Regions from separate parts of the Homo sapiens genome. Here region 2 is linked to region 1. The links come from fine-mapping of genetic effects on gene expression. A gene starts in region 1. The other region holds a variant in brackets. All regions are shown on one strand. Distances are between the middles of the regions.

Region 1 (4,383 bases):
CTCCCAAAGTGCTGGGATTCAGGCTTGAGCCACCGCACCCGGCCTAATGTTTTAAAAAACAAAAGTCTCAGGCTGGAAATGGTGACTCACGCCTGTAATCCCAGCCCTTTGGGAGGCCGAGGCAGGTGGATCACCTGAGGTCAAGAGTTTGAGATCTGCCTGGGCAACATGGTGAAACCCCGTCTCTACTAAAAATACAAAAATTAGCCGGGGAAGGTGGTGGGTGCCTGCAGTCCCACCTATTCGGGAGACTGAGGCAGGAGAATAGCTTGCATCCCGGGAGGCATTGCAGTGAGCTGAGATTGCACCACTGCACTCCAGCCTGGGTAACAGAGTGAGACTCTGTCTCAAAAAAAAAAAAAAAAGTCTCAGCCTATGAGCAAGACGCATCTCGGGTTAGTGCTAACTTTGTAGCATTCTGTGGTATCATTAAGCCCAGATAAAGTAAAATTGTTCCTAGACTGTGAGCAGGGTGTGTCCCTAGTTCTGAACATCCCACAAGGTTAAGGGGAAATTTTTTTGAAAACACTCAGTTATGTATATTTTTCTCGCACAAATAAAAACGAAGGATACAAGGGTGGGCCAAGGAGTTCACGGTTTTCACAACCCATGTTAAGTTTTTGCTAACGTTTGAAGAAAAATGGAGATGCTTGTATTGCTTAAACCATTTGAGAATTCCCTTATATTTGATAGATTCTGCCACTGTTCAACGTGACCAGAAGTGAGAGGATGAATGTGGGGTGCATGTCTTTCGGATGGTCCCCTGCAGGCAAAGGGGCTAGCCTTTGACAATTTCTCCACACGCTTCGGGGCTAGCTGGTATATTCCAATTAAACCAACATGTTTCCATCACAGACTTCATAGCCATCAAGCAATCATAGCCTTACCCAATGGAGAAAAGGAGCGGGCTTGGAGCGCGTCCACGGGAGTGGGCCTCCCTCTGCGCGCCTCTGGGAATGTTTGCGGTGCTTAAGTCAGACCCGGATTGCTCCAAGCCCAGCTTATCCTCCCCAGTTCTGCCAGGGTTTTTTTCCTCTTGTTTGTTCGTTTGTTTTTGCCTCTCTTTGATTTAACTTTTGCTCCTTGACTAAATATGTGCTTAACGCTAGACAAAGGACACTTCATACCCAAGTCTGTGTCTTTGTTCCAAGATCTGCAATTTCATTTGGTTCCTGTCGGCTTTACAAGTTCAAAACTATGCCCCCGTTTAGGAAATGAATTCAAAGCATGCGGCAAGGGAGACATTCGACAAACCCGGATGCTCTGGAAAACGTTGCCCTTCCTCGAGTTTCTTTCAGTAAAATCTGAATTTTGTTCCCGGGAGGAGTTGGGTTTGTGATTGCTACAGTGTAAGTTGCACCGAAATACTACATCATGTTCTTTGGGACATACATTCTGTTTCAGAATAAGAATGATATTCTTCCTTTCCTAAAATGTGAGAGTTTTATATGGACCTTTTTAAAATAAAAAATTGGAAGCCCTTGGAGTCAAGGCCAGAGTAAGACTCGCAGAAACCAAAGACAGAAAATATTTGGAACCCCCCCTCCTCAGACATGAACCACACTGAAATGTGTCCAGATACAATTCTTCAAAATCCTGGCTTTTCACAGGATGATTTGTTATTGAAAAAGTTGTTTGCTTCAGAATCTGAATTGTTTTAAAAGATTCTGTTGGTTGCCCCTGCTTTGCGGACGCCTTTTGTACGTTCTTCCTGATGTAGCGCTGCGAGGGGCGACTTTACCTCGGCGTTTGACAGGTACGCAGCATTCCCGCACCCGCCTGCGCCTCGCGAGCAGAAAGACGGCGGACTCTGCACCGCTCCACGACACTGGGGACCCGCCCCGGCCAGACCCGTCCCCTACCGAGACCTTGTCCCCGCCCCGCCCCCGGCCGGGGCCCCGCCCCGCCAGCCCCGCCCCCGCCAGCCCCCTCTCCTACCGAGACCTCGTCCCCGCCCACCAGCCCCGCCCCGCCCCCCCCCCGACAGAGGCCCCGCCCCGGCCCCGGCCAGCCCCGCCCCCGCTTGCGCGAGGCCTAGGGCTGCAGGCGCGGAGCCGCGAGCCCCAGCCAATGAGCGCCGGCGGGCCGGTTGCCCAGGCGACCAGTGCGCGGCTCCGCCCCCCGCGGCGAGGCTCCCGCGCGCGGCTGAGTGCGGACTGGAGTGGGAACCCGGGTCCCCGCGCTTAGAGAACACGCGATGACCACGTGGAGCCTCCGGCGGAGGCCGGCCCGCACGCTGGGACTCCTGCTGCTGGTCGTCTTGGGCTTCCTGGTGCTCCGCAGGTGAGAGAGAGCTTCGCGCAGCACCTGCCGGACCCCACATTCCCCAGCCCTCCGCACCTCGGGTTCTCTCCTCCCGCGACCCGCGAATCCCGAGTTCCCGGGGGGAGCAGCCCCAGCTGCTTCTTTCTGGGAGCTCCCCAATACCCCCGAGTTCCCCTGCGGCTGCAGGCACTCTACTCCTGCCGCGCGATCCAGGCCTCTGGGCGACACCCGGCGTGCCCTCGGGAGCCGGCGTCTGTGCCCCGAGCCGCCCACCCCGCCGCGCCTGTGACGCCGGGCTCTGCCCCCCGTGGACGCCCGCAGCCCTCCAGCCGTCAGAGCCCTCTCAGACGCACCCCATCGCGGCCCCGTCCCCACTGCTCCGCGGAGAGCTCCCTCTGCCCTTCCCCCAGGCCCCCCTTTTCCTCCCAAGCCTCTGGGAGGCGCCTTATTCCGCAGAGGCCGGCGCTTCAGCCTGGCAGGTATGGTCTAGCCAGCTGGCCTGGCAGGGTCGTAAGAACAGTGTCCGTGGGCCTCCAAGATCCCGGGCCATGATTTATTTGCACAGTAGGACTGATAGGTCGTCTCTCTCCACTTTCCCACCATTCACCTGTTACCAGCTCACCCTTTCCTCTCCCCCTTTTCCAAATGTTGTTTATGGCAAAGGAGTGGCTTCAGTGATACTGTGATTTACCCACAGCCTGTGAAAAAGTTTTCTGGGTGCCCTAGCCCAGCATTTTTCTAAACTGTGCTTATTTTAAGGATTCTACAGCCCTGACCCTATCTTTCAGGTCAGCACTTTCCATATTCAAAACCTCCAGTGGGAAGCCGACCGGCAGTATCGAATGAACTGAACGGTTGGAAGTGGTGGCAGGCCCTACGCCGCTCGGCTTTGTCATTTGCTTCTTTTTTACTTAGAGAAACTAAGTTCTTAGTTTCTCTGCACTTCCCCTGGGAGACAGGGAAGTTTTTGATGGAGATAAATATCTGGAAGTCCTTTGTGGCCAGAAGAACACACTGACAAACTCTATGTTTACACCTTGTCAAGACTGGATTCTTGTTTCTGAGATAGTGGGGACGTCATGATATTGTTTGGGAGAAGGACGGATTTTCTTCTCATTCTGGGGCCCAGAAAACTTCAGGCATTTAACTTCTCCGGTTGTTCCCAAGATGTTTTCTGTCCTGCCTAAGATCTCTAAGCCATTCCTCTCTGAAGATTGGCCCTGGCTCCTGTGGGATGCTCAGCTTTCCTCCCTGTGCAAGGCTTACGCAAACCCCAGAAGAATTACTCAGAGCAGCGGCAGCAGATCCTCCTGCATACAGCAGGGTAGCAAGGCGTGCAAGCTGCCAAGAGAAAGGCTAGCGGCTGCAGGCCTGTTGTTGGTCAGGGATACAGGAGTCCGTGCAGGGGACCCAGGCAGGTCACTATTTGGGGCAGCACTGTGGGCTTGAGATGGGCTGAGTGGTACACCCAAAAAGTCCCCAGGAAAAGGTATGCGAAGGAGGCTGAGGGTTTGTTATTGTTTGGTGGGACAGAGGTGAGGTGGCAGGGAGCTGACCTAGCTGGGAAGACGCCTGAGCTTCTTTGAGGTGAGGTAACTGTGTCCCCACCTAGGTGGGGTGACCGCACTAGGAGTCAGTCTTGGGCCATTGGAGCAGGTGGAATGGCAACAGAGAATAAAGAGCTGCAACCAAATTCTGTGAAAACAGTTTGGCCTGCCTGGGAAGGATGTTTTTCTTGCCTCTCCATCCTTCTAGCAGGTAGAACAGAAGCTCAAGGAGCTCTGAACCAAGTTCAGGGCCGTGTCTTCAGATCCTGTGGAATACGTGTCTTTTTGGCATCTTTTTGATTTTTTCACCCTCATGGGTACATTCTGCCAGTTCCTCCTGTCTGACTTGGGCTGGACACCAGTGAGTATGAGTTGCTGTAATATCTCTGGAGGCAGGAGGAGAACATCCTCTTTGTCTTTCCCTCTTCCTGTCTTGCCCCAGCTCTGACTGGGTCATTAACTGAGTGGGAGGTGGGGCCTCTCCCAGCTGTTACTGGGCAGTGTTGAGGTGGCCAGTGGAATATAGGTCACGTGGAAACTGGCCACCAAGTTCACTCTTTGTGGAGCCGAG
Region 2 (4,350 bases), 39 kb after region 1:
CCTTTCTCCCTCCTCCGGCAGAGGTTTTGAAAACCGTGTCTGCCATTGTGGACGCCGGCTCCTCCATCAACCTCTACATGTTCCACGGAGGCACCAACTTTGGCTTCATGAATGGAGCCATGCACTTCCATGACTACAAGTCAGATGTCACCAGCTATGGCAAGTATTCATCAGCACTGCTCTCCCTGGTCTGCCCTGCATGGGCATGGCTGGGACTTGCTATGGAGAGGCCCTCAGGGTCAACTTCTGGCACCTTCGTGTCTTTGGCAATAGAGTACCTGGAGAAGGTACTTGCCTGGACAGTCATGTTACACTCCCAGAGGAGGGAAGCCTCAAGGGAGGTGGTGTGCCTGTGAGCTGGTCACTCTACAGAGAGGCCTCTTTGGCAAAGGTTGGCCTGAGGAAGTGGAAGGAGACCGCCCTAGGGGGACAGGGAGGGACGGTGGCCTCCCCTCCCTGCCCAGGCCCTTGAGGAGGTGTGATCCTGCCTCCTTTAGGTTGAGAGTCCCAGAAAGTAGAAATTACACCTGCAGCTAGAAATTTAGGGCCATGCTGTGATCATGGACAGTTTGTGTTTTTTTGAATTTGTGAGAGAGTTATCACTCTGACACCCAGGCTGGAGTGTAGTAGTGTGATCATAGCTCACTGCAGCCTCAAATACCTGGGCTCAAGTGATCCTCCTGCTTCGGCCTCCTGAGTAGCTGGGACTACAGGTGTGCACCCCCACCTCTGGCTAATTTTTAAAATTTTTTGTAGAGGTGGGGGTCTCGCTATGTTGCCCAGGCTGGTCTGGAACTCCTGGCCTCGAGCGATCCTCCTGCCTTGGCCTCCCAAAGTGCTGGGATTACAGGTGCGAGCTGCTGCACAAGCGATCCTCTTGCCTTGGCCTCCCAAAGTGCTGGGATTACAGGTGTGAGCCACTGCACAAGCGATCCTCCTGCCTTGGCCTCCCAAAGTGCTGGGATTGCAGGTGTGAGCCGCTGCACCTGGCCTTATGGACGCTTGTTGTAGTTGCCTGGTCTTTCATGTTTACAGTATTTTGACTGAATGGCTCAAAAGTGTCTTGCCTCCCCAATGGCTGAGATGAAGACCTGTGGCCCTTCCAAGCTTCTCCCTGTTCTTCGTGCTACATGTGCTGTGCTGGGGACAGGAATGACCATGACAGGGCCCGGTGTCTTGCAGACTATGATGCTGTGCTGACAGAAGCCGGCGATTACACGGCCAAGTACATGAAGCTTCGAGACTTCTTCGGCTCCATCTCAGGTACCCAGCAGACAGCAGACTCAAGTTCCAACTCAGGCCCTCGCTTCTGCTCTCAGACCCCTAAAGAGTTACTTCCTTACTGTCCCACCTCGACCCCAGTTGATCTGCGTGCAAGAATATCCTAGACAAGGACAGGGAGGTGTGTGAGGCTGTTTCCATCTTGCCGGCTTCACCTGTTACAGGTGTTAACGCTCCTTATCTCCTGTGGAGGACGGGAGAACGCCCTGGCTTTCCCCCAGGCCTGGCCTTCCTCCCTGGCCTCAGCAGGTGCTGAGAGCTAGCCTGTTGTTCCTCTTGGTGCTGGGACGCAGGAGCACATCGGGTCTGTGGATGGGAGCCGGGTGGGGAGGACGAGCAGGCAG[T/C]GACATTTGGGTCCGTTGGGGGTGACCCTGTTTTCTGTGTTGCAGGCATCCCTCTCCCTCCCCCACCTGACCTTCTTCCCAAGATGCCGTATGAGCCCTTAACGCCAGTCTTGTACCTGTCTCTGTGGGACGCCCTCAAGTACCTGGGGGAGGTGAGTGCTGTGGGCAGTCATCGGGAGGTGAGTGAGTGCCGGGGGCAGTCGTTGGCAGGGAGGTGAGTGCTGGGGGCAGTCGTCGGCGGGAGGTGAGAGTCGTCGGGGCAGCAGGGCCTGGAGCCCCTCCAGACAGGGAGTGTGGGGGGAGGCAGGCCAGTGCCTGGTGGCTCTGGGGTCTGCTCTCCGGCCTTGGAGCTCAGAGGGAAGAGGACAGACTCATGCTGGAGTGTGAAGTGGGAGAAACAGAGGTCCCTGAGGAACAGCGGCTGGCCCCGTGGGCCTTTCCTTCCTCCAGCCTCAGAGAGGAGAGTGAGGGGCAGAGGAACAGGCCGTCCCCTCCCCAAGAAGGGGGTGCCTCCTCCGGCGGACTGAGGCTGTGATGTGTGTCCCCTGCCTGCGGACTGCACTCTGCTGGTGCACACCCCTTTGCCCCACTCCTCTTCCCCGTCACCCTGGAGAGTTGTATGTTTAGTGCAATGAGAAGTCAAAGTAGAAAACACCCACCAAACCTCCGCTTCCACCCCATGTGCCAGCCCCCAGGCAGAGTCTGTCTGTGACCCCACTCCTCCTGAGCCTGCCCACCCCTCCATCTCTTCTGTACGCAGCCAATCAAGTCTGAAAAGCCCATCAACATGGAGAACCTGCCAGTCAATGGGGGAAATGGACAGTCCTTCGGGTACATTCTCTATGAGACCAGCATCACCTCGTCTGGCATCCTCAGTGGCCACGTGCATGATCGGGGGCAGGTAGGAGCTTCTCTTCTAAATTCCTGTGACCTTCTGGTGAGCAGCTCTGCAATAGGCGTCTCATGCCCTCCCCTCAGAATCAGCTCTTACCAGTGTGTGACAATGGCCCTTCTGAGTCAGCTCTGTGAGCCTTCAGGGGGCATTCATGTCTGCTCTGCCCACTGGCCCCTCGTCTGCCTACAGGCACGCGTGCTGCCCTTCTTGGCCTGGAGGAGGTCCCGCTTACCCTCCTCCTGTTGGTCATGGATGTTCCTGCCTGTTCCCTTTGGCAGGTGTTTGTGAACACAGTATCCATAGGATTCTTGGACTACAAGACAACGAAGATTGCTGTCCCCCTGATCCAGGTTCGTTGTTTTTGGGAGCTGGGTGATGGCTAGCCCCCGCTGCTTCGAGGAAGTCTGGGGGCAGTCACTGAGGAAAACCTGGGAGACCCGTGGCTCCTTACCCACAAGCTGTAGGTGGAGAGGGCGAGTGTGGCTTTCTGCCCAGCTGGGATGTACACTCCCATCCCCAGAGCGTAGGGAAGAACTGGGGTCCACAAGCAAATTCTGAGGGGCAGCTGTGGCCTTCTGACAGTCATCGTTAGCCCCGTGTTCCCGGCAGGGTTACACCGTGCTGAGGATCTTGGTGGAGAATCGTGGGCGAGTCAACTATGGGGAGAATATTGATGACCAGCGCAAAGGTGGGTCCCAGAATGTGTCAAAAGAAGAGTGGCCATGCTGGACACACAGGTGGCTATTGCTTCTCTATGCTAGCAGGCCACCAGGCCATGGAGGCCTCTTGCAGGGAGGTGGAGGCTGGGTTGTCCCATACATGAGGCCAGTTCTGAGTGGGCCAGAGAAACTCCGCTGGGCTGTGGCCCCTGTCCTGTTAGCACTGCACGCGTGCATCGTCTGCGTGCTCGTGATAAACACTGTGAACACTGAGCTGGCCTCTTGTCTCCCCTGGGCTGCAGTCGGTTTCTGCAAGGATGTCTGCTTGGGGGGGCGGCAGTGAGGAGCAATGAATGTGATTTCCAGGAATCCAAGGAAAGGCACAAGACCCCTGCCTTCTTGGGCCTCCACACTGAAGTTCTCTTCTTGATCCATCTTGGGAAAGCTTATCTCAGATGTTGGGGGAGGAGGATGCGGGACATACAGCAAACAAAACACCTGTTGGTAGCGTACCCCTCTGGGAATAGGCCGCCAATTTGCTTTATGTTTCCTGGCCTACTAAATCTTTTATGCTTTAATTTAGCCCTTCCTTTTTTTTTTTGAGACGGAGTCTCGCTCTTTCACCCAGGCCAGACTGCAGTGGTGCAATCTCGGCTCACTGCATGCTCCACCTCCCGGGTTCATGCCATTCTCCTGCCTCAGCCTCCCGAGTAGCTGGGACTACAGGCGCCCGCCACCGTGCCCAAATTTAGCCCTTCCTTTTTAAAAAAAATCTAGCTAAATGTGGGTGGTTTCAGGTAAGTTATAAAAAAAGAACTCAGAACAAAATGAATGCGACTGTGGTGAGCAGCACCGGTGACCTCCCAGCTCTCTCACGGTGTCTGCGTTTGTGACGGAGGAAACTTGAAGAGCTCTTATTGGTCCACATTTCCTCCGAGAGCCGTCTGGTGGCCTGCCAGGAAAGCCACGTGGCCCAGACACTGGGGCCTGGATCCTGGGGATCAGGGCCCTTCTAGATGGGCCTCAGAGCGGCATCTAGCACCACCCAGGCCCACACTCCTTTACCCTAGACAGCTCCCTCTCTGGGCCTGTCCTCACTTCTGTTGTTCTCCTGGGAGTTGGAAGGAGCACCAGCCTGACCATTGTTCCTAACTTTGCTTCCCTGAGCCCT

Evidence for each region. PIP is the estimated chance that this variant, and not a neighbour inherited with it, causes the effect.
Region 2: its variant is the best candidate, but not a certain one, in a credible set for the expression of GLB1L2 in lung (TOPMed, PIP 0.52).

The regions. Positions count from the first base shown.
Region 1 is chr11:134,329,865-134,334,247 of GRCh38, forward strand. It overlaps GLB1L2 (galactosidase beta 1 like 2), which reads left to right and starts at 2,124. Exons shown (of 19, transcript NM_001370461.1): 1 at 2,124-2,283. The coding sequence starts at 2,198. RefSeq lists a silencer at 1,974-2,273.
Region 2 is chr11:134,368,623-134,372,972 of GRCh38, forward strand. GLB1L2 (galactosidase beta 1 like 2) reads left to right here. Exons shown (of 19, transcript NM_001370461.1): 10 at 22-159; 11 at 1,183-1,263; 12 at 1,671-1,777; 13 at 2,386-2,526; 14 at 2,799-2,870; 15 at 3,130-3,208. Among named protein-coding and RNA genes, the nearest start is that of GLB1L2, 39 kb to the left of the region's middle. The variant T/C (reference allele first, on the strand shown) is at 1,626.